2 separate regions of the Homo sapiens genome follow, and region 1 is linked to region 2. The links come from fine-mapping of genetic effects on gene expression. A gene starts in region 2. The other region holds a variant in brackets. All regions are shown on one strand. Distances are from middle to middle.

What was found. PIP is the estimated chance that this variant, and not a neighbour inherited with it, causes the effect.
Region 1: its variant is fine-mapped to the expression of FAM9C in tibial nerve (GTEx, PIP 0.98).

Annotation. Positions count from the first base shown.
Region 1 is chrX:12,412,940-12,428,133 of GRCh38, forward strand. The region is part of intron 1 of FRMPD4 (FERM and PDZ domain containing 4); the gene reads left to right. Among named protein-coding and RNA genes, the nearest start is that of FRMPD4-AS1, 45 kb to the left of the region's middle. The variant G/C (reference allele first, on the strand shown) is at 7,323.
Region 2 is chrX:13,037,961-13,053,154 of GRCh38, forward strand. It overlaps FAM9C (family with sequence similarity 9 member C), which reads right to left and starts at 6,660. Exons shown (of 8, transcript NM_174901.6): 1 at 6,580-6,660; 2 at 5,769-5,897; 3 at 5,168-5,288; 4 at 4,958-4,989; 5 at 2,798-2,912; 6 at 1,848-1,956; 7 at 456-543. The coding sequence starts at 5,829. The coding sequence ends at 481. LOC105373133 (a long non-coding RNA gene) reads left to right here and starts at 6,773. Exons shown (of 4, transcript NR_171577.1): 1 at 6,773-6,889; 2 at 10,142-10,245.

The sequences.
Region 1 (15,194 bases), 630 kb before region 2:
CCATGGGTAGTAAAAATAATAATACTGATAGTCATAGTAAAAAAAAAAAACACACATTTATGGCACTGTATGTGCCATGCACTTTATGGACATTAATTTGTGCAGCCCTGGCCACATTTCTAGGGCTACACCACATCATTGTATGCTAGATGACTTCCAGCAGCCAGTCTCTGCATCTCGGAGGGATTTTTCTGAAACTGTTTAAAGCCGGTATGCTTTTGTCTGGGAGCACTTTAAAAATGATTGACATGAGTCGGTATATAGATATCCCAGTTCCTTTGCTCCTCAGATGGGATATTTCAGACATGTGAGTTTTATACTATTCCCAGAATTTCCTGGCAGGATTAAGCTCCAGTCACCCAGTATGGTAGCTGGCTGGATAATCCATTCTTTATTGACTGTTTGTTTTCTCTTCCCAGCATAGTTTCCTTACCCTTGCACAGGAATCTTTGTATTGGGGTCTCCTTCTAGGGAAATCCAAACTAAGACAAATATTAACATCAACCCCGTGAGTTAGATATGATCATTACATTTATTTTTGCAGACAAGGAAATTGAAACATGCAAAGGCAAAGGAAGAGGCAGAAGTGTTCAAACCCACGTTGTGAGTCTGGTTTGAGAGCCTGCATTCTAGCTACACCAAGTAAATGCTACAGGAGCTAAGTGAAGGAGTGCACTCTGATGGAGAACAGCTGGCCCAGTGGTCTATAGATTCAGTTACTTTTCTAAAACAAGAATGTCAGGTCCAATGTACAAAGAGAACGTGTTATACTGACTATTGCATTCATGACTAGGTTCCTGGAACATTGTGGGGCAGCCTTTAAATGTGCAAATTCTTGTGTTTGAGGACCTGGTGTGCCTACCAATTAAACCACTTGGAAGGTTGTTTTAAAATCTGGTGCCAATTTGGGGATGTTCAGCCCTTCCAGCCAACAACCCTCCAGAATTGTCAGCAATCTAAAAGGCAATATTTCAGTCTTCTATTTCTTTCAAATTCATTTAGTGTCTAGGTGATAATTTTTTTCAATTAAAGCCCATAGGGCTATGGATTTACTGTTATGAGATGGTGGCCTTCCCTGTTAAACCAGTGTTGGTCTGTGTGACTATAAATAGGGATTTCCACAGTTTTATATATCTTGGCTAAATGAAAGGAATTTAAATGTTATTGCTACAAAGCATTCTTTCAGAAGCACTTAGTGATCATTTAATATGCATTGCTTCTACCTTTCACATTAATATCCTCATGCAGTAAATCAGATAGGTCCTCACTAATCCTATCCACACAACACACTATGGTTCATTAACAGATTCCTATCAGTGTAACTTTGATCTGCCCATTTTCAATTTTTGAGTTGTCTACTTTCTGGCAGATTACAGTTCAAAAGGTCTATCATTGATTCAACATGAAATTTCATTATATTTGAATCAAAGACTCATTGGAGTGACTTAAAAAGCTTTTTATGAAGTGAAAAAGTTGTTTCTTAGCCTCAGTTAATTTATTTTGTTATGTTATTTGATCCCAAAGTTCACACAAAACTAATTAAGTCTCAATTCAACAATGATATCATCCTGAAAATGCTTTGTGTCAGTATGCAGATGCTTGAGACGTATTTTTATATTCTTCTATTACGGACAGGACTAAGGAATTCTGGAACCCAAGGTTCTGCTTATCTTAGGTTTCGGAGAGCCATTAGTATATACAGGCCTTGAAAGCCTTCATCATGGGTTGGGATTTTAGAGAAGAGGGAGCCCAAAAATAATGAAAGAGCAACTTCAGTAGAAGAGAGAGGACCTGACATTTATTGAGAACTCATTATGTTCTGAACCTTATGGTGGTGCTTTACATATCACTACATCTTTCCCCCAACTACAGAGAGAGATTAAGTCATTTTCCCAAGTTGGTTACAAGAGAGACTTTTTCAAACACAATTCTGTCTGACTCCATAGTTCTACTTTTACACGTGATCACTACACTGCATTGAAAGCTTCAATACTAAGTGGTAGAGTTTTTCTTTTGTGGAAGGATGGGAGCTGATCATCTTTTTGGTGGTCCTTTAGATAACACCATGAAGGAAATTGTCTAGAGTTCAGGCTGCTGCTGACATTTTATCTAGGTGGTGAGCACTACCAAGATAAGGAGGGTGTTGAGGGAATTGCATTTGGGTCCTGGTGTTCCATGTAAGCCATTCTAGATGACATATGTAACTCTTGGCTTACCCAAGATTAATTTAACATTATTGATTCTTAGTTGATTTGTCTCCCTTTGGAATCATCGTGGAGGCACATAAATCCTGAGACTAAGAGGGTCTTCGTTGTAAGTACAGCCCTACTGAGCATCTCTGGAGGTGGCCAAAGTTGCATCAGAAAAGCAGTATTGCTGGGCAATATATGTTGTTTTCAAAAAGATAGTCCTGAGCCCTGCAACCCTTACCTCCTCCATCCATCCTCTCCTCCCCAGTTGGAAAAAAAATCTCATTTCTTTAGTTCTTAGTGTGAGGAAAGCAATCTGATTGATATATTTGAAAAAATATGATTAAAGGATTTTGCACCAGAATTCATCTTCCAACACCCCCTTAGGTTTTTCTATCTCCTTTACTGTTTTAGTTTTGACAACAATAATAGGGGGGATGAGATTGATTCACAAGGCTCTCACCAATACTAAAATTGTATGACTAACACCCAATTGCTATTTAAATATGATTATTAATATTATTAAAGACTTGGGATTATTTCCTGTGTTGTGTTTGATTATAATGCCCAGCATTATACATGATATATCCAGAGTCTTCCTGGTTTATTGCTCATGTAGCAAAATGCTGCCTCCATTGATCAGGATTTGGAAGAATGTTGGTGATTATCTCCTGAGAATAGTGTATTCTTTCACTTTGAAATATGTTTCTAACACTGCTGTTTACGGTGATTCTGATTATTTCAAGGCCATGGTATATTTGTATTATTTGCGATTATCAGCTGATGCTGAACTTTCAGAAAATTTGCTAATTATCAAGAATTCTTCATGACAATATGAGACCTTTGGGCAGCACATAAGATAATTTTAAAGTGAAAGAACTAGTCCGTCTCCTGCAAAATGATGCAATGCCAAAAGCAGGCTGTTAAGGAAATGCTAACATTTAGTGAGCATCTATTTTGCTCTGAATGTTTCCTTTCCTTCCCTCCCTCCCTCTTTCCTTCCTTCTCTTTCTCTATTTTATGTTTCTTTTTCTCCTCCCTTTCTACCTCTTCCGCCCTTCCTCCTCCTTTCTTCCCTTTCTCCTTCCTTCTTTTTTCTTTCTTTCTTTTTTTGGATATAAATAGTGATTGAGCAAGGACCACAAAGCAGCTTTCTCTCCTCCTTAAATTCCTTAAAGGAAAGTTTGTTCTTAGAGGGGCATGGCAGATTTCCTAATGAGCATGCCCTCACCTGGGCTTCCTGGCCATCAGTTTCTACTTCCACAGCAGTTGTGGGAATCCATTGTTACTTTGTTAATTAACAACTTGTATGGTGTAGCCTTTGAAGGCAGGGAGCTACTTCTTAAACACAGTTCTATTACTCTCTAATTTGTGGCATTAATAATCCGTTCTTTTTCGATTTATGTAAGATCTTTTCCTCTTAATAGTTGTGGCATTTTCTCTGAGATAAATTTTCATAAGACTCAATTCCAAGTTGTGATTTTCAAAAACAGGAGTCGTGTGGTCGAAGGATATTTCAACTTGTGTCTTATGACTGTCCTTCATTTAGCCTTTTGCCTCTTTAGAGATGGGACATATGATGAGAGCTGATTTGTTTCCCTTGTGGGCAAGGAAAAACATTTTTGAAGGTATCTAGCATGTTAAAAATCAAAAAATGCTTCCTCTGTGTCTTTGTCTGGTTGTACCTTTCCTTTAGCCACTTTACAAAGGAAGTCACACCATACATTTTGTCTGTCTTTCTTTAAAATCCTTTATTTTGGGAACACCAGAAAAAAAATTTTAGAAGGTATTCTCTCATCTTTGCTTAATCTCTTTCCTTAGTCATCCAGAGACTATTCCTACTTAATTGAAAAAATTCAATTTAATTTATAGATAAGGATAATACCTTTGAGATTTAAAGGCTCGGCTCAGACCTCTTCCGGGAGGGCGTGTCTGACTCTTATGTGTTCTATAGCATGAGTGCATACTCTAATATTTCTTCAGTCGATTCATTTATCTCTTTATACATCTGCCATCCCATCAGCCTATAAGCTACTTTTTGCATTGCCATCAGATACCACCATACTGGACACAGTTACACTAGTATCACTTCAAAATGTTGCTAGATATTTCTATTTAATATATTAACCAAGGAAGCACACATATTTCTATATAATAAATTTAGTTTTGGCCCGGTGCGGTAGCTCACGCCTGTAATCCCAGCACTTTGGGAGGCTGAGGGGAGTGGATCACCTGCGGTCAGGAGTTCTAGACCAGCCTGGCCAACATGGTGAAACCCCATCTCTACTAAAAGTACAAAAATTAGCCGGGTATGGTGGCAGGCACCTGTAATCCCAGCTACTTGGGGGGCCAAGGCAGGAGAATCACTTGAACCCAGGAGGTGGAGGTTGCAGTGAGCCAAGATTGCGCCATCATACTCCAACCTGGGGGACAAGAGCAAGACTTCATCTCAAAAAAAAAAAAAAAAAATTAGTTTAAAAATTTGATAACTTTATTATCAGTTTTTTTTATTATCTTGATGATCTATTATCAGTGTAATTCATTTCCTTTGTAATTCTATGTGCTTTTATTCATTTTATTCATTTAAAAACATTGTTCTGGCCAGGCACGGTGGCTCAAGCCTGTAATCCCAGCACTTTGGGAGGCCGAGGCGGGCGGATCACGAGGTCAGGAGATCGAGACCATCCTGGCTAACACGGTGAAACCCCGTCTCTACTTAGCCGGGCGTGGTGGTGGGCGCCTGTAGTCCCAGCTACTCAGGAGGCTGAGGCAGGAGAATGGCATGAACCCAGGAGGCAGAGCTTGCAGTGAGCCAAGTTCGTGCCACTGCACTCCAGCCTGGGCGACAGAGCAAGACTCTGTCTCAAAAAAAAAAAAAAAAAAACAAACAACAACAACAACAAAAACATTGTTCTGAGAAGGGGTCTACAGGCTTCACCAGACTCATGGGGCTCGTGACACCGAAAAGGTTCAGAACCCTTGCTGGAATAACGTGTTCTAAAATTCAGAAACACTTCAAAAAAGTTTGAGAGGATGATTTTACAGCCCCTCAGTATGGCTGTATGGCTGTCCACTTACATTGACTATAATTCCCTTGCCATCACCATAGAGACAGCTTGTGGACTGGCTAGTGCATGAAAGAGCAGAAATTGGGTGACACTGAGCTATATTCTAGGCCCAGCCGATGACTCAGGGATTTGAGCATCCATCAGTGTTTCTTTCTTTTTTTTTTTTTTTTTTCTTTTTTTGAGATAGAGTCTCGCTCTGTTGCCCAGGCTGGAGTGCAGTGGTGCAATCTTGGCTCACTGCAACCTCCACCTCCTGGGTTCAAGCAGTTCTCCTGCCTCAGCCTCCTGAGTAGCTGGGATTACAGGCGCGTGCCACCAATGCCTGGCTAATTTTTGTATTTTTAGTAGAGATGGGGTTTCACCATGTTGGTCAGGCTGGTCTCGAACTCCCGACCTCGTGATCCGTCCGCCTCAGCCTCCCAAAGTACTGGGATTACAGTCGTGAGTCACCGCACCTGGCCACATCCATCAGTATTTCTAAGTGTAAATAAAATTTGTTTCTATGTGACAAGGTTGAGATAAGCATAGAAGAAAACTGCTGCTGAACCCAGAACCCAGACATAATCATGTAACTGAACTTTCTTGCTGCATCCTATGATAATTCCCTTGTTGCTAGCTTATAAATAGCGGAAAACAGCCACCATTTCTTCAGCTTTTCTCCAGAAGGGCCAAAGATGTTACATTTATTTTTGTTTCTTCTTCTTAAATAATTCTTCATGAATTTCAGTTTCCCAGAAGGCCTCACAATTTTCTAACACCCCAGATACCTTTCTTGGTATTTCATGTCATGGGTTATGTTTATCCAAGGAGACTTTATTCATTGGATTTCTTAATAAGAAAGAATGACTTGATTATTTATGCTCTAATATTCCCTATGCTTTTAAAATTGCTGACCCCTCCCTCCTCCTGTATCATGATACTATCTTGCAGGGAAAGTAGAATCTACTGGATGAAAAGTCCCTCAACCTCCTGCCCCCAAACCTATTGATTTACTCATATCCACATACTACATCACCTCCTCCCCCTTGTGAGGGTGGAAGATAAGTTGTTTTTCCTGTCTCGGACAAAGCATCCTGTCTCCTATAGTACTGCAACAGATTGAATCCAGAAGCCGATAGAAAAAACCCACTGTCATCTGTCGAGCAATGTATTAAAGAGATCTATCTGCAAAATTGTAAAAAGATGCTGTTCTTCTCACCAAATGTTTTTGTTTTGGAAAATATGGTTATGTTTTATAAAAAGATATGACTTATGAAATAGAATTGTTGTTTTTAAATACATAAAAAATATTTCAATAATTTATCAGTTTTACTTTCTAGTATATTAGATATCGGTAGATGTAAGCAACATGCACAAAAACTCTTCGGGGGTCCTCAAAAATGTTTCAGAGTGGAAAGGAGTCCTGAGGGTGAAATGGTTGAGAAGTGCTGGTCTAAAACTCCCCAACCCAGTCAAATCTGGCTTCTGCCCATATCAGTTCACTGAACCTATTTGCTCCAAGGACACCAAATTCAAGGGCAAGTCCTTACTAGACTTCTGGGAATCATTCACACTGTTCTTGACCGTTCTTCTGGAAATGCTTTTCCTCTGACTTACAGGAGTCCAGAGAGGAACACCATGTACACTACTGGTGTTCTTCCTACCTCCCTGGCTCCTCCTCCTTTATCTCCTTCATGGGCTTTTCTTCCTCTGCCTAACCTTAAAGGTTAACGACCTGTGGGGCCCTCACCTCCTCCCACACTCCATGCTTCTTTGTTTTCCGTTACCGTCTTTAGGCTGGTGACAGCTGTGTTCAGCCCAGATCTTTCTGCCAATCTTCATACCTAAATACTGAGCAGCTTGCTGGGACACCTCTACCTGCCTATTCCACCAGCACCTATAATTTAACACGCCCTGAACTTATCATGTCACCATCACGCCTGCTCCTTCATCTCTATTCTCATGGCCCACACTCTGTCTAGTTGCCCATACCAGAAGTTTGGAAACCATTCTTGACTCTTTCCTTTGTCTTAAACCCTCACTGTCTTTCACAATATCCAAGCAATCTCCAAGCTCTGTGTCATCA[G/C]TGTCCTGAATCCTCAAAACAATCTGCTGTTCTCTAACTTCTAACACTGTCCCACCCGGGCCTCCATTGTCTCTACTAATGGCAGTAGTCTCCTAACTGGCTCTTTTCTAGCCTGTTTTCCACTGTGCCACCAGGGTCATCCTTCCAAGGCACAGAGCTCATCAATTCACTATTTCTTCAAGGCCCTGAAACACTTGTCCCCTCCACCTCTCACCTCACTTGCTGCATCTCTCATCACCTGCCCTCCCTCGGCATTCTGTGCTGGCTCCAAGGGCTTCCATGCTGCCATGGGCTCTCCCCTTCAGCCCCTCACACATGCTGATCCTTCATCCTTCATCCTGGGCCACCATCCCTGCCCCATCCCCATTTACACCTTCTTACCCTGAACACAGGCAGTGCTGACTAACTCAACACCGGTCGTTGATATTCAAGTTTAGATTTCTGACACACATCTAGCCTTCTGTAACACCCTATGTGTGCTCTGTGATGGCGTTTGTCAATCCACACATGTAACCGCATGTTTGATGTGACCTTCAGAAGGGCAGCAGCCTTGTCTCTCTTACATGTCATAGAATCCTCACAGCATCCTTTTCCAGCTCCATCACTTAACCACAATCTCTCCGTACCTATTTGTCGAATGAGGAAATTCGTATTTCTTTTCAATTTATCTTTCACTTTAAAGGTGAGCAGATTTACTGATTTTCCTTTGTCAAACAATCACAGGTGGCTTGAGCACAGAAAGGCAGTGATTTCAGTGCTTACAAAAATATAGCATTTATAGGTGTTCGAAGACATGGATATAATTTCACCTACTGCCTGCATGAAAGACTATCTGCGTCCTGATTGGCAATGGGAGTTGGCAACACATTGACCAGGTTAAGTCTTCTATCTATATATGAGGAGGGTGGGGTGTGAGGAATTGACATCTGATCAAAAGTTATTGTCCTAAGAAGTATGTCACCAAAAGTAATTCCATTTTTTTATGTCAAATGTGACCTTTACTTATAAAAACCCTAATGACAAAATAATCCTTTTTAGAAAACTGTTTTGTCACATCTGTGAGACAATGTAACTACAGAAGTTACCACAACACATATGTTCTAATCAAATAATATTGGTAGGTTAGGCTTCCATGCTCACGTCTCAAAAACTAAAATATTTGCAATGGAGGTAAAAGGCTTTTTCTATCTTTTTCATAAAAAGGCTTAATTTAAGGCCTGATGTGGAGGTTTAAGCCTGTAATCCCAGCACTTTGGGAGGTCAAGGCAGGAGGATCGCTTGAGTCCAGGAGTTTGAGACCAGACTGGACAACAAAGGAAGACCCCGTCTCTACACAAAGTATAAAAAATTAGCTGAGCATGGTGGTGTGTGCCTGTGGTCCCAGCTACCCCAGGAGGCTGAGGTGGGAGGATTGCTTGAGCCTCTGGGAGTTCCAAGCTGCAGTGAGCTATGACTGGGCCACTATACTTCAGCCTGGGTGACAGACAGAGACCCTATCTCAAAGAAAAAAAAAAAAAAAAAAAAGCTGGGGGGGCAGGGGCTGAATTTCTAGTTGATCACATAAGGAGACCAGTGAGATGTAAACCTAGGCAGTGTCCCAAAGCTGTTCCGGTTCTTGCCTTGGATATCTTCTTGCTGTCCATTCTTACTCCCTTTATTATGTTCTTCCCTCTTGCCCTTCTCTCACCAGACCTTCATTTCCACAAACACTTAGGAAGTAAAAAAGTCTAACATGTTTGAATCCTTGAAAACAGGGTGTAAAACATTTTGGTATGTAAAACATTTTTGGTATGTAAAACATTTCCTTTCCGGTATTATCATTTAATGTGTTTAATCATGAATTATAAGTGAGTATGGCTTTGGGGCGTGCTTCTTTTGAAAAGAAAAGGGCACATGATCACCACCTCCTGTGTCTCTTATCTGGTACATTTCCCTTGAAGGACTCAGCTCATTATCTGGCAAAGACGACCATGGTCTACAAGTCAGTTGGGTTCAACAAATGCTTATTAGCCATCTTCTAGAAACAGATATCGTGTAGGACGCTAGAGACAGGCTGTAGGCTTTGATATTTGGGGTTTGAAACCTGAATAGGGAGCGTCTTCCTCTTATTACATTCACTTTATTCAATCCTATTCATCTGAAAAATGGGGAACATAGGTATTATTTCAAATAGCTGTTCAAACAATCCTAGTTTATTCATCTGAAAAATTGGGGAAATTTTCAGATGAATAAACTAGGATCGTTTGAAAGGCTGTTTGAAGAATTCAATGAGATAATGCAAATAAGGTACCCAGCTCGGTGCCTGGTACCCAGGAGAAACTGGATAAGTAATGGCTTTCAGAATGATTACAGAGGATGAGGAAAGCTCTCCAGGATTCCACAGTGAGCTAGAAAGCGGTCTTCATTTTTGTAAGAAGTGAAACATATAGGAGAAACAAATGTGAAAATACATTTTTATAAAAGTGGGAAATAGTTAGTCAATTCCACTCTGAAAGTAACCCTCTTGCTTTTTGGTTTAATCTGTTATAGATGAAGGGGATTAACTGCCAAGAGACTTGAACAACACACAGGTTTTTTTTGGTTCTTCATGCTTGCACCTGTTAAAAGGCAGAAGAGGTCCAAAAATGGGAAAGATGTGACTTTTTTGTGGAGGCTCATGTTTACTAGAGGGAGAGAAGGGCAGTAGACCGCATATGTCATGTTTGTTCAAACTGAGCTGAGAATTTGAGGGGAAAGGGTTTTCTTGACAGCTGGGTATTTCATATCCTGCCTGTGGAAACTCAGTAGGTTTCCAAGAGCAAAGTCTAGAGGCTATAACCTTGTGCTCCTGATGTCCTTGTGTGAAAGGATTATTTTCTGGCTTTGGAAGAGCAAAACACCTCTTAAAAATTCCGGCTCCTGAAGTGTTGTTGCAGTGAGCCGAACCAAGATCGCGCCACTACACGCCAGCCTGGGTGAGAGAGTGAGACGCCGTCTAAAATAAATAAATAAATAAATAAAAAATAAAAAACAAAAATTTCCCACTCCCGAAATCTGTTGGTACATGATTTCATTCTGAATAAGGTCATGGGGTCCAGTTGGCAGTAATCAAACATTGTTCAAAACTTGACCCTAAATCGTAGTTCCTCCCAAAGGTCTTGGAAAAATAGGAGATTAGGTTTTAAAGGGAAGGAAAACAAATGAGTGCTTCTCCTTAATTATGCTTTTGGCTGCCACTGTGGGGATTATGAGCTTTAAGCTTCTAAGCTTCCACCTTTTTGATATATTTCCTGTTACTGTATTATTGTTGCCCAAGTGAGGGTGGGGGTGCAGAAAGGTTTGCAAGGGAAAAATAACCTCATCAATGTAACTGAAATTCCTTTCTCTGCAATTCAGTGGCTGACTTTATTGTTATTGTACTTTTGAAAGATTTGTACAGTTGTCTTTCAATTGCATAACATTGTTTTTCATTTATGGAGCTAATTGCCTGCTAGTTACTGATGCTCTTTAACCTTATGCATTGAACTTTTACTCATTTTGAAATTAGATAAACTTCATGCAATGATGTTAGCATGTGGGGACTGCTGACAAAGCCCAATAAAGCTTTCTGTGCCCAATAATCTCAAATCACACACTACTGGATGGCTTAGGCTTGTCAGCAGATACTAACAAATACCACCATGTTGTCTTATACTGTTAAGTATAAAACAAGAAAAGAAAAAAGGAACAAAAAAAACAGAAAAGAACAAGAAGCTTTCAAAATAAAACATATCATGCCCTTTTGAGTTTAAGGGGCCATCTCGGGTTTTTAATTACTTGTTACTAGTAGCATGGCATTTTGTACATTTGCACAAAAGGACCGAAACTTGTCATTGTGAAGAAATGATGGGCAGTATCTATCTTGGGTATGGTTACCGGTCATAGAGTAGTTCTACTTTGAGCTTGCCATACGACCCTTGTCATTTCTTTTCAGATTGATTTTTCCTGCCCCATGTTAACTATCCAGCTAAAGACACCCTTCCTTTGAAGAACATCTGCAATGAAGGCTTTACTTAGTCACTGTAATTCTAGTTCTATTGATTTCATTTTCTGTTGTCACTTTTTGTATATAATATGCTATTCCTTGAATAGTAGGACTTCATTTTAAGACTTTTTTCATATTTCTCAAGAAGCTCTAGAAAGAACTTTTTCAAAAAATATTTCTCTTGGCACAAAAGAGTCTATAAAATATGATCTTAAATGGTAAAACTGAAATCTCTAGAGCAGTGCTTATCAAACTTTAATGAGCATAATTGTGACCTGGGGATCTTGTTAAAATACAGACTCTGATCAGATAGATCGAGGGTGGGACCCGGGCTTCTGCTTTCTGTTGGTCAAGGGACCACATTCTGATTAGCGAGGTTCAAGGCCTATCTGAAGTTCAGACTTCAACTTAGACTTACTGCCTATGCAACCACTGACCGTGTATCTCCCAAATGCTCCGGTCTCTCCATTTGGGAAATAATTATGCCATTTACCACATCATGAAAATATATGACAGCTTTCAACATTTTTTAATAATCTGAAAGTTTTCTGAGCATCCCTGTTCACCAGTGGCACATGAATTACAAATAAAGATTATAATTTCAGAATCTTGTGTACTGGGGCAAAGGCAATGCTACTTCTATAATGCGTTTGCTTTGTCAAAGACGAGCCTTACTCTAAATCCCTCAGTAATTCAGTTTTTTTTCCCCCAAGGGATATTTTCTGTAGGTTGAATATGAAAAACCCTTCTTTAAAAAATATTCCTAAACAGCTTTAATTATTTGTACCGAATTAGTCACTTTTCCTGACATGATTCAGGAAGACAAAATAAGTAAGTAGAGTGTTGCCTTCTTCACAAGACAGACATACCTACTGAGCTTATACTCGTGCTTAATTTTTTTTCTGTGCCTTTATTTTGTTAGGCCACATTTCTCAAAGAAGTGCCACCTTCCTCCTGTTTAGTCTTTTTGCTTTGTGTTCCATCATGTTCTTCTATCTGCTTGTCAGAACAATTTTGAAAGTTATCAGAAATTGCCAGCCAACCAGAGTTGTATTTCTTGTTCCCTTCTCTTCATTGTCAGTGGAAACAAAACAAAAATTATGTGTAAAAGGGTGCTGTCTCTTGTTTTTCCTAGAGCTCTGGGCCTACTAAACCTTGTTCCCTGTCACTATTGAGGGAATCTGCAAGCATTACATTATAGATACAAAGTAAACTTGTTTTATAGAGATTAACATTGGAATCTAAGAGAATTCCCTGATAAGATAACAGCTGGTATATTTCTTATGTCTCATGCATTGGTTCTCAACCGGGGGTATTTTGAGACACTTGGCAATGTCTGGAGACATTTTGGTTGTCACAGCTGAGGGTGGGTAGGGGCTACTGACATCCTGTGGGTTGAGGCCAGAGATGTTGCTAAACATCCTACAATGCATGCGGCAACTCCCCGCAAGAAAGAATGATCCAGTCCTAAATTTCTAGAGTGAGAAGGTCTTGAGAAACCTTGATGTGCTGTTACTCAATACAGTCTTGATTGCTTAGTGTGGTTGTTTTACTCTGTCTTTACTATTCTTAAATTCTACTGGACTTTATTTTGTTTTGATGCATGAGGGTGTTAGCCACGTAATTCCCATTAGAGTGATGAGAATTGTGTATGTAAATACTCTTCGGCAATGCAGTTGGACTCTCATGAGGATTTGATGATATCTTTTGTATAGGTAATTTTGTATGCTTTCAACAGCAGGTGATTTTCCATATATACTAAACCATTAAAAATTCTAGAAAGTTATTTTTCAAATCATGAATGTCTTATGACTGTTACTTGAGCAAATTTATTTTAAAATACATTTTGACAATAACTATCTCTTGAGGAAGACTGGGATTCCCAGACTAGAGGGATTGATCCCTCTTTCTGGAAGAAATATGGAGTAGTTTTCAGTCAGAGTATTTTAATGTGGCTTCAGGAGAGACACATTATAGAAACAAGATAGTAACCCCTCTTGAATTGCACTGATCCTGATTGCCTGTGAAGAAGATGGTTGATCTCTGCACCATCTTAGTACAGAGATCAGTGGCCCTCAAATCTTCTACTTTCAGGGCTAAGAGGGGCCTGAGGGATGGTTGAGAGCAGTCCCCTAACCTTAGAGATGAGTATTCGCAGTTGGAAACTGATTATTCATGGAATGGGAAAGAGATTATACAAAGAAAAGACTGGGTCCTGAAATCAGTGACCCAGTTTGAGCTAATGTAGACAATCTTGTTTTGCATAAGGCCTTGTTATTCTTTCTCATCAGGGCTGCTAACCTGAAGAAGGAAGTCTGCATGCCGCCCACCTTTCTCTACCCTTAATAGACCTTAAGCCACCCCCAAACAAAACAAACAAAAACACCACAGAACAGGGAAAATGGAAGGAGTAATAAAGTAACCTGATCTGCCCTTCCATAATCACAGAAGGATGCTTGCTCATGAAGAACACTCCTATCAGTCCGATGGTTAATTTCACCTCCTCCAGAAGCCATCTCTTAGCTTCTACTCTTCTAGCATGCACTCAAATCTTGACTTGGAAATAAAACGCCCTCCATCTGATCTCTATTTTTTGAGGCTTCTAGCTGTAGTTTTTTTTTGTTTTTTTTTAACTGGATTAGAATCCTGGCTCTATTACTAGCTGTGTGACCTCAGGGAAATTACATAAATTCTCTGTACCTAATCTCTGAAAACGAGTATCATAGGAGTCCTTACACTGTAGATAGGATGGTGAGAATTAGCTAAATTGATATATGTGAAGTGCTTAGGACAAGGTTTGGTACATTGTAAGCATAATGTAAAACATTAGTTATCGTTATGATGTATATACATACTCACTTATATTTGAACACCTTAGAACTTAATTTTGTTTCGATGCAAAGGATAATTAATTGGTTGCTGAAATCCCTCCTCCAGTACTTTATCACCGCATATTTAAGAATGTTCTGTCTCTTTAGTACAAAATTTTACATTCATAATGAGTTCTTTTTCTCCCCCAGTTCCATCCTCATCTCACTCTCTCAGGGAAAAAAACAGTCTACCAATCAGAATTGGGCTAGCTGAAATCAACACACAGGCCAGTGCATACATGTTCTCCTTGGGTAGACAAGTACTATGCAAACACCTCAAGCTAAGGGTACTAGATGAGTAGGCAAGTGATGATGAAAACAGAGGGATGGAGACAAGCTAGGAGAACAGGACAATGCAAGAATAAAAGGAATGAAGCTAAAGGTTGGTGTCTTTGGGGCTCTGAGGGGGAAGACACAATGGAGAAGGCACTAGTCTTCTGGGATGATGTGAGCCTTTGTCTGGAACAAGATGCTATTTAATTTTGTTTTACTTTTAATCAAAAATGTAATTGCAAATAGTTTTAAAAGGCTGATGGTACTAAAGGGCTTATGACCTCAAACCAAAAATCTGTTACCTCCTCCTTTCCCCTGCCTTGCCCTGCTCCCCAGACACAAATATATTTAACTCTCATACCTTATTTATTCTAGAAGTATATTCTTGAAAATAACGCATAAGTCACTTTTTTGATTCATCCGATTTTAGACAGTATCGTTGACTTTTTATTATGACAGATAAGGATGTTAATCATTTTCCTTTTTTCTCTTTTTTTTTTTTTTTTTTTTTTTTTTTTTTGAGACGGAGTCTCACTGTGTCTCCCACACTGGAGTGCAGTGGCGCGATCTCGGCTCACTGCAAGCTCCGCCTCCCGGGTTCACACCATTCTCCTGCCTCAGCCTCCCCAGTAGCTGGGACTACAGGCGCCCGCCACCATGCCCAGCTAATTTTTTTTGCATTTATAGTAGAGACGGGGTTTCACCGTGTTAGCCAGGATGGTCTCG
Region 2 (15,194 bases):
TACATTTGCCTACTTCCTATTTAACTAAAACTCTTGAAACAACACAAGTAAAAAAGACATCCAGAAAGGACTTATGGACTTTCTGCCTTCCACTAAAGATTTGTCGCTGATCTCCTAAAAACTGAAAATAAAGTCTTCATTAATGTGTTCATAAGGTATCAATTTTTATACACAAGATGTATATTTCTAGGTAAAATTTCCAATTTACCTTTTCCTGTTCTAAATAACTCCTACAAAACTATTCATGAATCCTAAAAATACTGTTTTATGTTATTTTATGTTATTTACTACTTATGTTAAATCTGGAACAACACATTCAAAGTGAAAATGGTAAGTAATTTAAAATGTATAACCAAAATGTCTTTCCATACATTCAGAAACAAGCAGATTGTCTTCTATTTTTATGCATGTGTTGTATTTTATAAGAACGTATTGTGTTACCAAATAGAACAGACCTTTGTGAATTGCTCGTGTGGTGGCTCAATCTCTTTCAGTTCCTTTCCCATCTTGTTGCCACCTCTTTTGTTGCTCTTGAAATATTTTCTAGAGGCACAAAACAAAAAAGTGATTAAAATTGGGTAAATTTTAATACTTATAAAACATTCTGCATTAAAGAAATACTCTTTAAATCAATACTTCTGAACACTTTCTTTTAGACAACGTTTATGACCAATTTGAAACAATTGTGTTCACCACTCATGTGCTAAAACAATAACCTTTTTCATCAGTCATGGAGTAAAGAATTTTCTTTCTTATACATATTCAACACATACGTCTTAATTCTTGATTTCAAATGAAGAGTATTTGATGACCCTTCCTATAATTTGTTGACCACAGATAGGTAAGATCTATACAGAAATTAACTAAGAAACATTCTTTCTTACTAAGATTTTAAACACCTGTTAAATCTTGGTCATTTCAATATGTACATAGATAAACCTTCCATTAATGATTGCCTTTCTGCACCTTGACCTAATCTCCAACAATAGTGTTCTCCTCTCCTCTACGTGGCACTCACAGTCATCCCCTAAATTTTGTCATTCCCAGTGACTGCAGTATCTACATAATATTAATAATAGCAATGATAAACAGCAACCATGGGTCAGATCGCATCCTGAAAAATTTAAATAAACCTGTTACACAGGAACCCTTTAATCCTCCAAACAACTCTGAAATAGGTACCCTCACCATGTCTCCTTTCGTATATAAAGTAACTTTAGCACAGAGATAAATAATATGCCCATGGTTCCTGAACTAGCAATGGTCAAACTGGAATTGGATCCCAAGCAGTGGGGCTCCAGAGTCGCAGCCCTTGACCACTGCACTCATCTGTTTCTCCATCTTCCCAACATACAGCCACTACCTTCCTGCCACTGTAGGTCACTCACTTCAGTACTACAGCTCAGGAGTCTGTAGGGACCTGACGCCTATTGAATGGAGCACTTTTCACTGCCCAATGCCCCACCCCCATGTGCTCAGGTAACTCAGCCCCAGCTGAAATTCCACAGCCAGTCATCATAACCCCATCCCTGCCTCTATGCCCTGTCCAACTCTCCCTCTATCAACATGCTCGGCTACACCCCAACCCAGGAAATTCCAACCCTACAGCTGCTCTTGCACAAATATGCCAACTGAGTTCACTTTAACTTCTTCATCGCTATGATGCTGACTTCAGTTGGACCCCTAATGCTGCATGGCAATTATATTCCCCTAGTCCATGAGTCCACTAATGGGCGACCCTCTCTGGGCTCATGCTCTCTTCCTTCTTTGCTGGATTTCTGCATGAACTATTACTACCTGAGACATTGATACAATAGGTTAATCATAAAGCTAAGCCTGATACCAACAATTTGTTCTTCCTTTTCTCCATCTCCTTCCTCATCTTTCTGCTCATCTGTGATGAACTCTTCAAGGACATTCGGCAACTTCAGAGAAATTCTATAATCACGTTTCTGCCTGTAACACATAATAAGTAACAAGGTCATACGTCATAGAGGGATGAAAAATTAATCCTATTCAAACCAAAACTGACTTGACATAGTTTGTACTATAAAGTAGCAAGGGAGTAATAGCAGCTGAAATCTTCTTTTTGGGAAAAGGTGAAATGAGTTACTGTCATTCTGAAAGGATCCCTTCCTAACTGACTACTAGAGCAGCTATCTTACATTCTTTACCTGCTGAAGACAAAGGAGGGTTTACTGCACTATAAATTTCCCAGAAACAATCTTTTTCTCCAAGAGCAGTTTACTTTTCATTTCTTCTTACTAAATAACATATGCGTTCTCATAAGGAGGTGCAAGAATATCATAGCCATTCATCCCGTAAGATTTCCCGAAAGAAATACTTCACTTAACTATTTCTCCACTTTGGCACGACAATGATCTAAAAGGAATAGTGAAAACAATTTAACTAAAATAAATAACTTATTTACAACACAAGGTTATCCCTTTCTACATAATTGAATATTGTTAAGAATCTACAGACTAAACGTTGAAGACATTTATCTTATATTCACCTACCGTATTTCTAGAAATGGATAAACATTAATTTTACAGGAAGACTTTTTATCTGGAAGGCAAAAAGAGGTCATCTTCATTGGCTTCTAGGTAATATCTCTCAATTCTGTTAAATTGAGGTTATAAAACTAAAGAAACTTACCTGTTTAGGGAACAATCAAGTAAAATATGTTGTTCCCTAGAGACACCAATATGTACAGGATAGTTCTGGAAATTATTTGCACCAATGAATACAAAGAAATGATATAAATATCATTATTCAAAAAAGCCAACAATCATACCTTTTTAGTTGTGTTGTTCTCAAAACATTTTTAATTCTGTTCTTTATTTCGCTGCAAGCTTTTGCAATCTTTTCAATCCTTTTTCTCTTTGCAGCAAGATGCTCTTTAATGTCAGCTAGATAGTAAATGAATATGCATTAAATGTTCATGTTGAAAAGTAGTTTCTTTGCATATATTAAAATCAATATGGGACTTGATGGTTCAGCAATATCAGAAGGACATTTAAAATGTAAAATGCAAAGATCATTTCAAAAAGCAAGATTTACTTACTTTATGTAAAACCTTTCAGGTATTAGTATTCCAATTTCAGTTGGTATAACAGCAAATCACTTAATTGACAGATAATGAAAAAAAGCAAATAATTAAAAGTTTCTATTTTTTAAGTGTGCAGAAAGGGTTACAAACACAGACTTTAATTTCTTTTTTTTTTTTTTTGAGACAGAGTCTCGCTCTGTCACCCAGGCTGGAGTGCTGTGGCACGATCTTGGCTCACTGCAGCCTCCGCCTCCCGGGTTCACGCCATTCTCCTGCCTTAGCCTCCCGAGTAGCTGGGACTACAGGCGCCCGCCACCACGCCCGGCTAATTTTTATATTTTTAGTGGAGACGGGGTTTCACCGTGTTAGCCAGGATGGTCTTGATCTCCTGACCTCGTGATCCACCCACCTCGGCCTCCCAAAGTGCTGGGATTACAGGTGTGAGCAACCGTGCCCAGCCACAGACTTTAATTTCTACATTTATAAAATGTCCTACAATTCAAAGGACATGTTTCCGTGAAATACTGTCACAACTCATTATGTAAAGCACAAAAAAGTATCTGATTTAATAAGACCATCAAAAGGGTAGAAATAACTTAATACACAATAAAGAAAGTATTTTTAATCAATAGTTGATGCTATTAACTATATTTTAATAAAAGAAGCAATGTCCATGGGTGTAAACATTTAGGTTTAAATAGATAAATACATTCAAAACACATTTGAAATATTTTCTGAGAGCTTTTTATATGACATTTTTATCCACAGTGCAGTGTTTCAGAAAACTGTAATACTGCAAGGAATGCTTTCCTAAACATGGTTTCACATGAGAGATCTACCATCAATTGCTGAGAATAGTTTTGAGCAATCATAAAAGAGCTGCACCATAATACAAATTTTTTTACATACAGTATCCATCTATAATGCTCATTGTATTAGACAAAACCGGCACTTTGTCACCACCAAGCAGAGCAAAGCTTTCCAAATATACTGCTTATATGAATTATCGCTATAGAAGAGCTGAAAACTAAAGTAAGCTTTTTAAAAATAAGAGTATTGTCTTCATAATCTCTACAGAAATTTTCTCAAACTTTTTTGAAAATATGGTCCCATAACAGTGCAACTAATATTTCACATGGCAATATAAAGTTTATGAGTTTTTGGATCCAATTGTATGCTTCTCACTGGGTAGAAAAGTTGTCTTTCCTTTTCTACTACACAGCTTGTTACTGGAATAATAATAGAAAATCATCATTTTAGAGAATTCAATTTTCTCTGGTACTTTAAAGAAAACAAAATTAGAAAGTTGTGACAATAGCTAAATTAGGAAGATGAAAAACTCATATTAAAAACTGAGTACATACGGACAGGAAGAGGTGAACAACACACACCTGGGCCTACTTGAGGTTGGAGGGTAGGAGGAAGGTGAGGATGGAAAACCACCCATCAGGTACGATGCTTATAATCTGGGTGACAAAATAATCTGTATACCAAACCCCTGTGACACGCAATTTATCTATATAACGAACCTGCACATGTACCCCCAAACATAAAGTAAAAGCTAAAAAAAAACCTGATATATGACTTAATGTGTGTACACTGAAAGGAACGAATAGAGCTGTTTCTCCTCCAATGTCCTCTAATATCCCCCAAACAATTAAATTTCCACGTGTATGAAAGAAAAGCCACCCCTCTTGCTTCACCATTATTAGAAGCATTCTCACATTCCACATCAACAATTAAAAAAGTAAGTAAGAAAAATTATTAAACAGATTACATTAAATGCTATATATGAGAAGAAGGCATTTAAGACAGTCTTGTCATCCACTAATTCATATAACCTACTGTAAGGGTTGTATGGTTGAAAACAATTTTCATAAACCACAAATAGCTCGTAAAACATACCTGCAATATCTTCTAGCTCCTTGGTATCAACCCTGTAACAAAAAGTTGCAACACAATTTTAACATAATGCTACACAAAAGGCCTTGTTTGTTGGGAAGAAATGTCTTGTGTGAAATGTTCTGCATAGAACATAACAGTGATGACATGATCCAAAGCTGACTTTTCCTAAAAGACCTTATCTGACAGGCAAAAGGGACTTAAACACTTTACCCCGTGTGTTCATCTGTTTCAGCAAAAGATCCTCTTTCCCCATGCTCATCAGTTACATCTCCCTCCTTTGTCTCTGTAACAGGTTTTCTTTCCTCATGCTCATGACTTACTGGATCCTTTCCTGCATTAAAATAAAAAAGACAAACCTTTTTTAGAGGAAGACGCTGTTGTGGACATTTTTCATAGAGAAACGTACTATTTGTAGACTTTTTTGGCTCTCCGCCAATTAAAGCTTTACCGCAGAGCTATACATGGAATCGCCGGCTCCTAACCATTTTACGGAGGCATTTTTGGAAGCCCTTCGGGTTCAAGTCCCAGTAAACAACGTTCACAGGTCAGATCCCTTGGATGTCAGGACCGCATCCATGGAGAAGAGCTGCTCTGAGAGCATCTGTAACCCTGCTATGAGGGGGAGCCTCCCACGGGAAGCCTAAGGCCCTTGAGCCTGCTTTGAAAACCTGGGGCATCTCAGCACATGCACGGTGAGCTCCAAAGCCACGAAGGGGCCGGGGGCCTCGGGCTGCCCATGTGCGCCCCGCCCAGAAAGCAGACAGACTGTTGGGCGTGCACCTTCTTCTAGGTCCCCTTGGGCTGTGTTTACCTGCAAGCTCCATTTCCTGGGCGGCCATAACTTGAACCTCCAACTGGTCCTTGGCAGCCATCCTGCTGCCCTTCCTGCCCACGGGCTCCGTGGCTGACTGGCCTGGGAAGCTAGAGGCGACCTCTGAACCTGGTGAGTGCAAAGACACACTAAGGACACTAAGGAAACGAGGCGTGTTAAATGAAAATCATCAGGATCGCAGGTTCAAGGGCGCCCCGGGTCTCCCGTGGGAGCAGGAGGGGACGCGGAGAAGATGCCATCATCCCCTCCTGTCCTGGCCCGTCCAGCGCTTCCCCGGGGCTGGCTGCAGAGCTCGCAGAATTCCGCGGCCTCTGCGGGATTCTTGCAGTGCCCTTGGGACAGAGCCTGGCCCTGCCCCTGGGTTCCCCAGCGACCCAGTGGAGTCGGGAGGGCCGCGGGGTGACACAGGATCTCCCCAGCCATCTCCATGGGAATGAGCCGGTACGCACCTGTTTCTGACAGGGGCAGGGACTGCCCATTCGCCAGCCTGGACGCCCAGGGGACCCCTGGTGACCCCAAGTATCCCGTCCTGATGGGCAGCCAGACAAGACGGACCCACGTTGACCCCCCGACCCCCCCCCAAACGCTGCACACATGCACAGGCCTCCGGGACCCTCCTGGGTCCTGGGGACCACTCAGGCAGCTCCAACTCCCTGCCCTGACCCAGGCCCCAGGCGACAATGCCTGGGCCATTTCCTCACAGATCAGCCTGGCTGCCCCGCCCTTCACACCCTCTTCCCCAAAGGGCCTCTGGCCCGCCTTCCCCGCATCCCCACCGAGGGCGTCTCACCTGAGGGAGCCCTGATGTTGCTCCCTCAGAGGACCTGCAGAGGCTGGCACCGCGAAGCTCCTCCGAGGGCCTGGGTCCTCTGTTCTCACGAGAGCAGCAGCCGCCCCGGCTGCCCGCGCTCCTCGCTGATTGGTCGGCCCAGTGCGCATGCAGGTGGCGGGCGGCATGGGGCCACGCCCCCTGCAGGCACACCCTCCCCCTCACGGACTGTCCATGGCTGCTGTGGACTCATTGGGTGGCTCTCTGAGGCCTCTGTCCCCACGATATTCCAGCTCCTCATCCTGGTGAAGGAAGCAAGGACTCGGGAGTGGTGAGTGCCAGGGGACCCTGCCCTAAGGAATGGAGGCCAAGTGAACGGGGCCTAGGACCTTGCCCCCAGGCTCGTTCCAGCCACTCCTGCCCCTTTGGGTGGAATGGCCATCACCCTGCGGGTGGAGCCCAGGCTCCCTCCCATGTCCTGTGTGCTTCCAACACGCCCAGCTGCATCCTTTTTATCAATGGATTGTGCTTTTATGTTTTATCTAAGAAAATTGTTGACTCCCAGCAGGGGCAGGTAGTTTTCTCCTATCCTACTCCATTCCCTCACACTGGGCATTGCATGATTCTGCAGTGGATATACAAAGTTAAAGACTTTATGTCTAGATTTCTCATGATGTGGTCATTTCTTTTCTTTCATTTTTCTTTTTTCTTTTTTTTTTTTTTTTTGACAGGGTCTTGCTCTGTCACCCAGGCTGGGCTGCAATGGTGTAATCACTACTCACTGTAGCCTCAACTGCCCGCGCTCAAGGGATCCTCCCACCACAGCCTCCCAAGTAGCTGGGACTACAGGCATGTCCCACCATGCCCAGCTAATTTTATTTTATTTATTTATTTATTTTTAGAGACAGAGTCTTACTCTGTCCCCAGGCTGGAGTGCAGTGGCACGATCTCGGCTTCCTGCAACCTCTGCCTCCCTGGTTCAAGCAATTCTCCTGCCTCAGCCTCCCAAGTAGCTGGGACTATAGGCGCACGCCGCCACGCCTGGCTGATTTTTTTTTTTTTTTTTTTGTATTTTAGTAGAGACAGGGTTTCACCGTGTTGCCCAGGCTGGTCTCGAACTCCTGAGCTCAGTCAGTCTGCCCGCCTCAGCCTCCCAAAGTGCTAGGATTACAGGCATGAACCACCGCTCCTGGCCAATTTTGTTTATTTTTTGCAGAGATGAGGTCTCACTATGTTGCCCAGGCTGGTCTGCAACTCCTGGGCTCAAGCGATCCGCCCGCCTCAGCCTCCTAAAGTGCTGGGGTTACAGGCTTGAGCCATCGTGCCCAGCCCGATTATTTCCACAGCTGGGTTGGAAGCCATCTTTCCCTGACAAGGCAGCTCACCTTTATATCTAAGAGTTCTCTATAACCTAAAGAGAATCCCTAATTACTGACACTAAATACCACCAGCTGTCCCCATTTCCCCACAATCTACTTGGTACCCAAATTAGCCAATGAGACATCTTGGGGAATTTTAAGCCATGATTGCTTCAGGTTTCTCTCTCTTTCGAGCTTAAGATGTGTAACATTAAGAAAGAAGACAAATCTTGCAGAGGGCTTTGTGCAACCAGTCTTACAGCTTTCTATCCCATCTGGATCAATGTAATTTTCATATGCTTCATCAAAGATTTCAGCTGAAAGTACTATACCAGGTTCTGTCTATAATTGGAAACACATACACACATACACCAACTACTGGTATTCAGCTAAGAATTCAATGCTGGCTCATTTTTCTTTAAAAGAATGTCAAATCAAGGAACAATTCTCCATCACAAAGTGGAATTTGATGTCAGGTGAAGACAAATGGGGATTACAGAGCTACTTCTTTGGCATAACAGCCTAGAAACAAACTGAAAAGGATTCTGCAATTTTAAATAGGCACAAAGACATTCTTTTCAGAACACCAAGTGTCCAAGTTACAAAACCCTGAAGAAATTCTTTTAAACTTTGGATGGAGCAATTTATCTCTTTTTCCCAACTGGAGTATTTGTGAGATGTCTCCCAGAAAGAAACAACTCAATACACAAATCATTAAGCCTTTGTAAAGGGAGGAAGTCTATTTGAAGCAACTCTGGGTTGCGGAAACAGGTTTTGTGAACTAACCAAAGCCTTTAGGGCAAACATGGTCACTTCAATTTTTTTTTTTTCCCACTAGAGGTTATCTACAAAGACCACAGGAAATGTTTAAGCAAATTTAAAGGAGATTTCTCAAGAGTTATTAGAATAAGTACTTTAATTTAGAGAATTGGTTTCTAATAACTGGAGGTGTAACCCCCTCCTACCCCCAACACCCTACTCCACCCTATGTGAATTGACTGACAAGTAAGGATAATGCTTCATAACAAATGTAGAAATAACACCAATTTTCAAAGCAGCCCTCACTCTTCTATTGCTGTCATTAAGAACTAACTGAAAGAAATGCACTGCTTGGATTCATAGACAGACAGAGGGACAAACAGATGGCTAGATATGTGATAAGCAACAACAGTATGGCCAGATGTCAATGATAGAATCTAGGTGATGGGAACATGAATGTTTTCCATGAAATTCTTTCAACTTTTCTGTGTATTTGAAATTTCTAATAATAAAATGTTGGAAAACAACATGTATGCTGTGCATACATGTAGAGACATAGGCTCAGACCCTCTCATCAAATGGCAACAACAATTGTTCATTTTGAAAACATCTAGAAATCTAAGATGTGATCACTGGGTTAAAGACTGTATACATCCATACTCTGTAGCCTGAATTAGTGATTTACGCTCTAATAGCCAATCAAATTGCTCATTTATCAGACAGGGCTGGTAGCACAGGAGATGGAAGTTTCTCTGCTGATAATCCTCCAGACGTTTGAGGGCTTCATGTTCATTCACATTTCAGCCTTTTCTCCAATTCTTAGACTCTTAGCAAAAGTTTATACTCGAATGAAGCAGCAAATTCTAGGCTCCAGCTGTTTAAGAATGAATGAAAACATTCATGTCTTTCAGAAAGGCTTATCTGATGTACTCTGCACAAATACCCTCACCTATGATCTTCTCTGTGCAAACTCTATCAGGGCCCTTCTCAGTGGGCTTTTCAAGACTCTCTCCAATTAGATTATAATTCCTTCAAGGGCAGGTCTTTGTCAACTTTGCTTCTCCAGCACTCAGCGCCATGGCTGGCACATGGTGGGCCGTCAGCAAATGCTGTGTTTGCTATACGTGAATTAATGCTGTGCATACATGTAGAGACATAGGCTCAGACCCTCTCATCAAATGGCAAAGTCTACCACCCAGTCCTGAGAATTACATCTCAGCTTAGAGCAGAGGGGCCCCACCCTGGCGTCTCCTGGAATCACTCAGGAAATTTCAAAACACACTGCTGCCTCCATCCTACCCACTAAGTTTCTGATTAACTGTGTTGGAGTTTGGCCTGGGCCTCAGGACGGTGAAATCTCCCCAGATGATAGAAAAGTGCAGGCAGCACTGAGAATTCCAGGGTTTGGACTTTACAAGCCACCAGGTAATTTCATTTTCACTCACCTTCTTTCCTTTGATTCTCAGGACAAGCTACCAGGTCTCCAGGACTGAAGGTTATCATCTAAGTTGGTGTTCTCAACTGGAGGCGATTTACCCCCCACCCAGGAGACAGTTGGCAATGTCTGGAGGTATTTTTGGTTTTTATAGCTGGGGATGGGGGTGCTACTGGAATCTTGTGGGTAGAAGCCAGGGATGCTGCTAAACATCCTACAATGCACAGGACAGCCCCACCACAAAGAATTATCTGGCTCCCAATGCCAACAGTGTTGAGATTGACACACCGTGGTCTATGGTAACTGTTTGATTAGCTAGGGCTTTCTTAGCTAGAGTAATCTCCTTTTTGCACTCTGTGCCCATGCCCTGAGTAAGACAGACAACTGCACAACAATTTATCCCAGAGTACATCTGAGTCAACTGTTGATGTTACATGTTGGATTGGCTCCAGCAAATGAAGAGCTGACATTCAATGAGTGTTCCCTTTGTGCCAGGCACATTATATACATGGCCATATGTTCCTCCCAGCAATCTGGGAGAGGAGAGAGATTCTAAATTTGAAAACTAAACTCATTATACAAGGTCATGCATTTAATTAAGAGTTTGAACCTTTAACAACAAGCCCAAGACAAGGAGTTGCCTCAGATCCTTAATAGGTTGCCTTAATATAAAATTAATAATGCCCTATGTTTCTCAAAACCCCTTGTTTGAGAAACTCAAGCCTAACACATTGTTCATCTTTCCTGCTCTTGCAGAATGGAATTGATGTGCCATACAAGCCTAATCATTAACAAGACATACCAGTACCCTTTCCTTGTAATCCCACCCTCCTCCACCCCACTAAGGATCCACAAAATACCTTTTAAGGTGAAGTTCCAATCACTTTCACATTATTGTAACCATGGCTTATGGCTTATCTTTGTTGTCATGGATAATTGAGGCAACTGTGTGGGAATGGCAACTTATGAATGATCTAACAATAGGCCTATTAATATAGCAGTAAATGTCACAGTTATAATAAAAGGTACCATACTTACACAGAGTATTGCCAGACCTAGCACAATTCCTGGCATAAGGTTTGTGCTTAATAAATGCTTGCTGGATGAACCAATGAAGTAATCAAATGAGTCGGAATAAGATGCAACATATTCAAGAGATTTATAGAATGGAAGATCTATAGTGTTTTTATTTGAGATCGATATGTTCTGTAGTGGTAACCGAAAGAGTAATAGCTGACTTTCACTTTATTATTAAAGCACAAACAGGGCATATCAATATTTATTTTCTCATCCTTATTTTGGTATCTAATAGTGCCACCAAATATTATATTATATGGATAACTATAATTCCGATACTTACATCAACATTTTTAATCTTGTTGGTAGACATTATATTTTTCTTTAAAAGAGAGATAAACAGCTTAACATGGGAAATATTTGACATTATTAGATTTCTTAAAAAGAATTTTTGTGCTTTTATCAGCATCTGACCAATATCTACAGGACTGACTTCTCCTTTAGGCACAGAGTTGAGGGACCACAAAATTACTTCAATTTCTCTTAAAAATAACAAGGGAAAATATTAATATAATTCAGTATGGATTATATTATCTTTATACTAACAGAGTCACAAAATATAATTTTTTAATGTATTATTTTATATATATAATTATTATTTTTTTAGTGGAGGAAAGGCTTCACGAAGGAAAATGCATCTATAGCTTATTAATGTCATGCAGTGGCCCTGGATGTCACCTCTCTACATTCCACTGCCCTACTCTTTTCAAATAGCTTTTTTATTAATTAGTTTCCTTTTTTTTTTTTTTTTTTTTTTTTTGAGGCAGAATGTCATTCTGTCGCCCAGGCTGTAATGCAGTGGTGCGATCTTAGCTCACTGCAACCTCTGCCTCCCAGGTTGAAGCAATTCTCATGCCTCACCCTCCCGAGTAGTTGGGATTACAGGCATGTGCCACCGCATCCGGCTAATTTTTGTATTTTTATTAGAAACAGGGTTTCACCATGTTGGCCAGGCTGGTCTCAAACTCCTGACCTCAAGTGATCTCCCTGCCTCAGCCTCCCAAATTGTTGGGATTACAGGCATGAGCCACCACGCCTGACTATTAATTAGCTTCCGATTTCAATTTTTTAAGAAAACTTTGTTTCATCATCTAAGTGACTATCTGGGTCCTTCAGTGGAGGGAGACTGGTAACTGATGACATTTTACAACCAATTGATGACAAGGGACTGACTCAAGGTGTGGGGGAGGGGTGAGGGAATTGGTGACGTGGGAACATAGCAGTTTGCAGGTCAAAAATGAGGGGTTAAAGATGCCTCCAAGACTCTCAGCTCAGGGACATGGGCAGATGAAGGTGCAGTTAGGCTAGCAATGTCAAGTAAATACCATGAGAGAGGAGATGGTCAATGGCTCTCACGGAGATTGGGACTGGAAAGGGCTAAAGCTGAACCTGGCAGAGATAAAGGAAAAGGAGCCAGCACTACAGACTGAAGAGACAGGAGGACAAGCTGGAGAGTTGAGTCCAGAGACAGAAGAGGACAGAGATTTTAGAGTTGTGGAGAGTTCAGTAAATTCAAAGACCTCAGAGGGATGAAGAAGGTTGAGGCTTGGATGGCCACCATAAGATTTGACCATCACGAGGGTACCCAAGGTCTTTGCCTGGTAGTTTCTGAAGTGTGATGTAGGGAGAAACCAGATTGCAGTGGATAAAAGATATGAAGGCGGGGGCTGGGCGCAGTGGCTCATCCCTGTAATCCCAGCACTTTGGGAGGCCAAGGCGGGCAGATCACCTGAGATTGGGAGTTCCAGACCAGCCTGACTAACACGGAGAAACCCCGTCTCTACTAAAAATACAAAATTAGCCAGGCATGGTGGGACGTGCCTGTAATCCCAGCTACTCAGGAGGCTGGGGCAAGAGAATCGCTTGAACCCAGGAGGTGGAGGTTGCAGTGAGCCAAGATTGTGCCATTGCACTCCGGTCTGGGCAACAAGAACAAAACTCCGTCTCAAAAACAAAACAAAACAAAAAAGATGGAAAGGCAGAGAGGGAGAGAGAGGGTTCCTCCCTCCAGGGCCAGGACATTTTAGAATATAAGTTGAGGAAAAGGAATTGGTGGTCACAGAGAGAGAAAGAACAAGCTGGTGTTTTTTCTTCTCTTCTGTCTCTCAAAATTATGCTTTCACAGAGAGTATGAAGTGTAATCATCTAGACCAGGGGTCAACAAACTACAACCCCTGGGCCAAATCTACATAGCTGCCTATGCTTGTAAATAAAGTTTTATTGAAACACAGCTATGCCTATTTTTTCTCTCTTTTGTCTATGGCTGCTTTTACACTACAGTAGCAGAGTTGAGTAGTTGTAACAGAAACTGCCTGCCCAGCAAAGTAAAAAATATTTACTATCAGGCCCTTTCGAGAAAGTTTGTCAACCACTGTTCTAGGTCAACTCCCTTGATATAAAGATGGAGAAACAGACATTCCATTACATTTCTATGTTCATTTGCTTTCTTGTTCTGACAAAGCAGAAGTGTCTACCGGAATTATTAATTACCTAGTGTATGCGTCATCACCCACTGAATTTTAAGAGCTATGTATACAACTTTCATGCAAAGTGTCACCACTTTCTATTCTCATCAAGGTGAATTTTCCTCCCCATTCTAGCTGCAAAGCAAAACTAAAGCTAAATGCACTTCCATCCTTTATACAGGCCTCATTTCAGCAATGTTTGTTGGGCACATTAATGAGCAGAAATGACTTAGCTTTATAACTGCTTCTGAAAATCTTGAGATTTAAGTGAGAAGGAAATACTTTTGTTTCTGCCTCCATCCTATTTTAGTGTAAATCAAAGTTAACAGCTCATGGTCTGGTTGGCAGTTCACAAGAAAGGGCGAGGTTGCCAGAAAATCAAAATCACACAATTTCCTGTTTTTGAAGATGTATTTCAACAAGATCACTGAGAGCTTCAAAGACAAAAATGGCTGTCTGCCAGGGCCAGACCAGCTCCAAGCGCCTTTGTTTGCTTTATTGTTTGATGCTGAGGGGTCAAAGCACTCTTTCTATTGTGTTGTCTCTGCTCCCCACCCCTGTTATTTTTTTTGTTGTTGTTATTCTATTAAGATTCCTGCTGAAAATTAAATTAAGCTTCCTAAGTTCTTCTTTGTTGATCCTAGCAACTAATTATAGAGAAACCAGAAAAGATTTGCAATACTTGGGCATTTTTTAAGATTGTAATTGGCTACCCACAAAGTTGGTGGAACAATAGTTTTTGGGGAAAAAAAGAGATTCGTACTGATTTTTCAATGAATATTTAAAAATATCTTGGCATCAAAATTCCTCCCATTAACCTCATTTGAACATAAAAAGGTCCCTTTTACTGGTGCTATAATTGACTTTCCCCACCCTATTCTTCCCTGTTCATCCTGACACATCCCCCACACTCCGTTTTAAATTGTGGCATAGGACCCATGTGGCCCCTGTAATCTTCCTTCAAGGCCAAAGCCGACTCCCAGAATACTCAGCATGTCAGTGCCACCTGCTCACAACTTTGGCACTGGCATGGTTGAAAATTCTTCCAAGTAATGTCCAAGAGGGATAGCTTTTTTCTGGGATGAGCTTGCAAAGCCAACTCAGAGGGTCACAGTAGATTGTGATTACATCTTTCAGAGCAGAATGTCGGGGGTGGGGCGGGGGCGGGTGCATCTATGGAACGGTTAGAAAACTCGCTGACTAGAGGGGCTCCCAAGATCACTTTGTGTGAATTCGACTGCTATAGAAACTATGAAATTGGTTCACTGATCTGAACTTTGGGTCAAGACCCATGCAGCCATTCTAGACATGAATGGTTTTGGCCTTCAGTCACAACAATTGAAAATTAGACCCTTGAAGAAGGCAGGAGTCTCTGAAGGGGCTCCTCAGAATGTGAGGGCTTTAGGCCTGGAGTACCTTAAAGGTTTTCTTTAAAAAACATTTGGATATGGTGACCACATTGTCTGATTTTTAAATTCAAGAGGCATCCATAGAGAATTTGAAGTGCTACTTGCCTTCGAGCCAAGATGCGTTATTTACGGT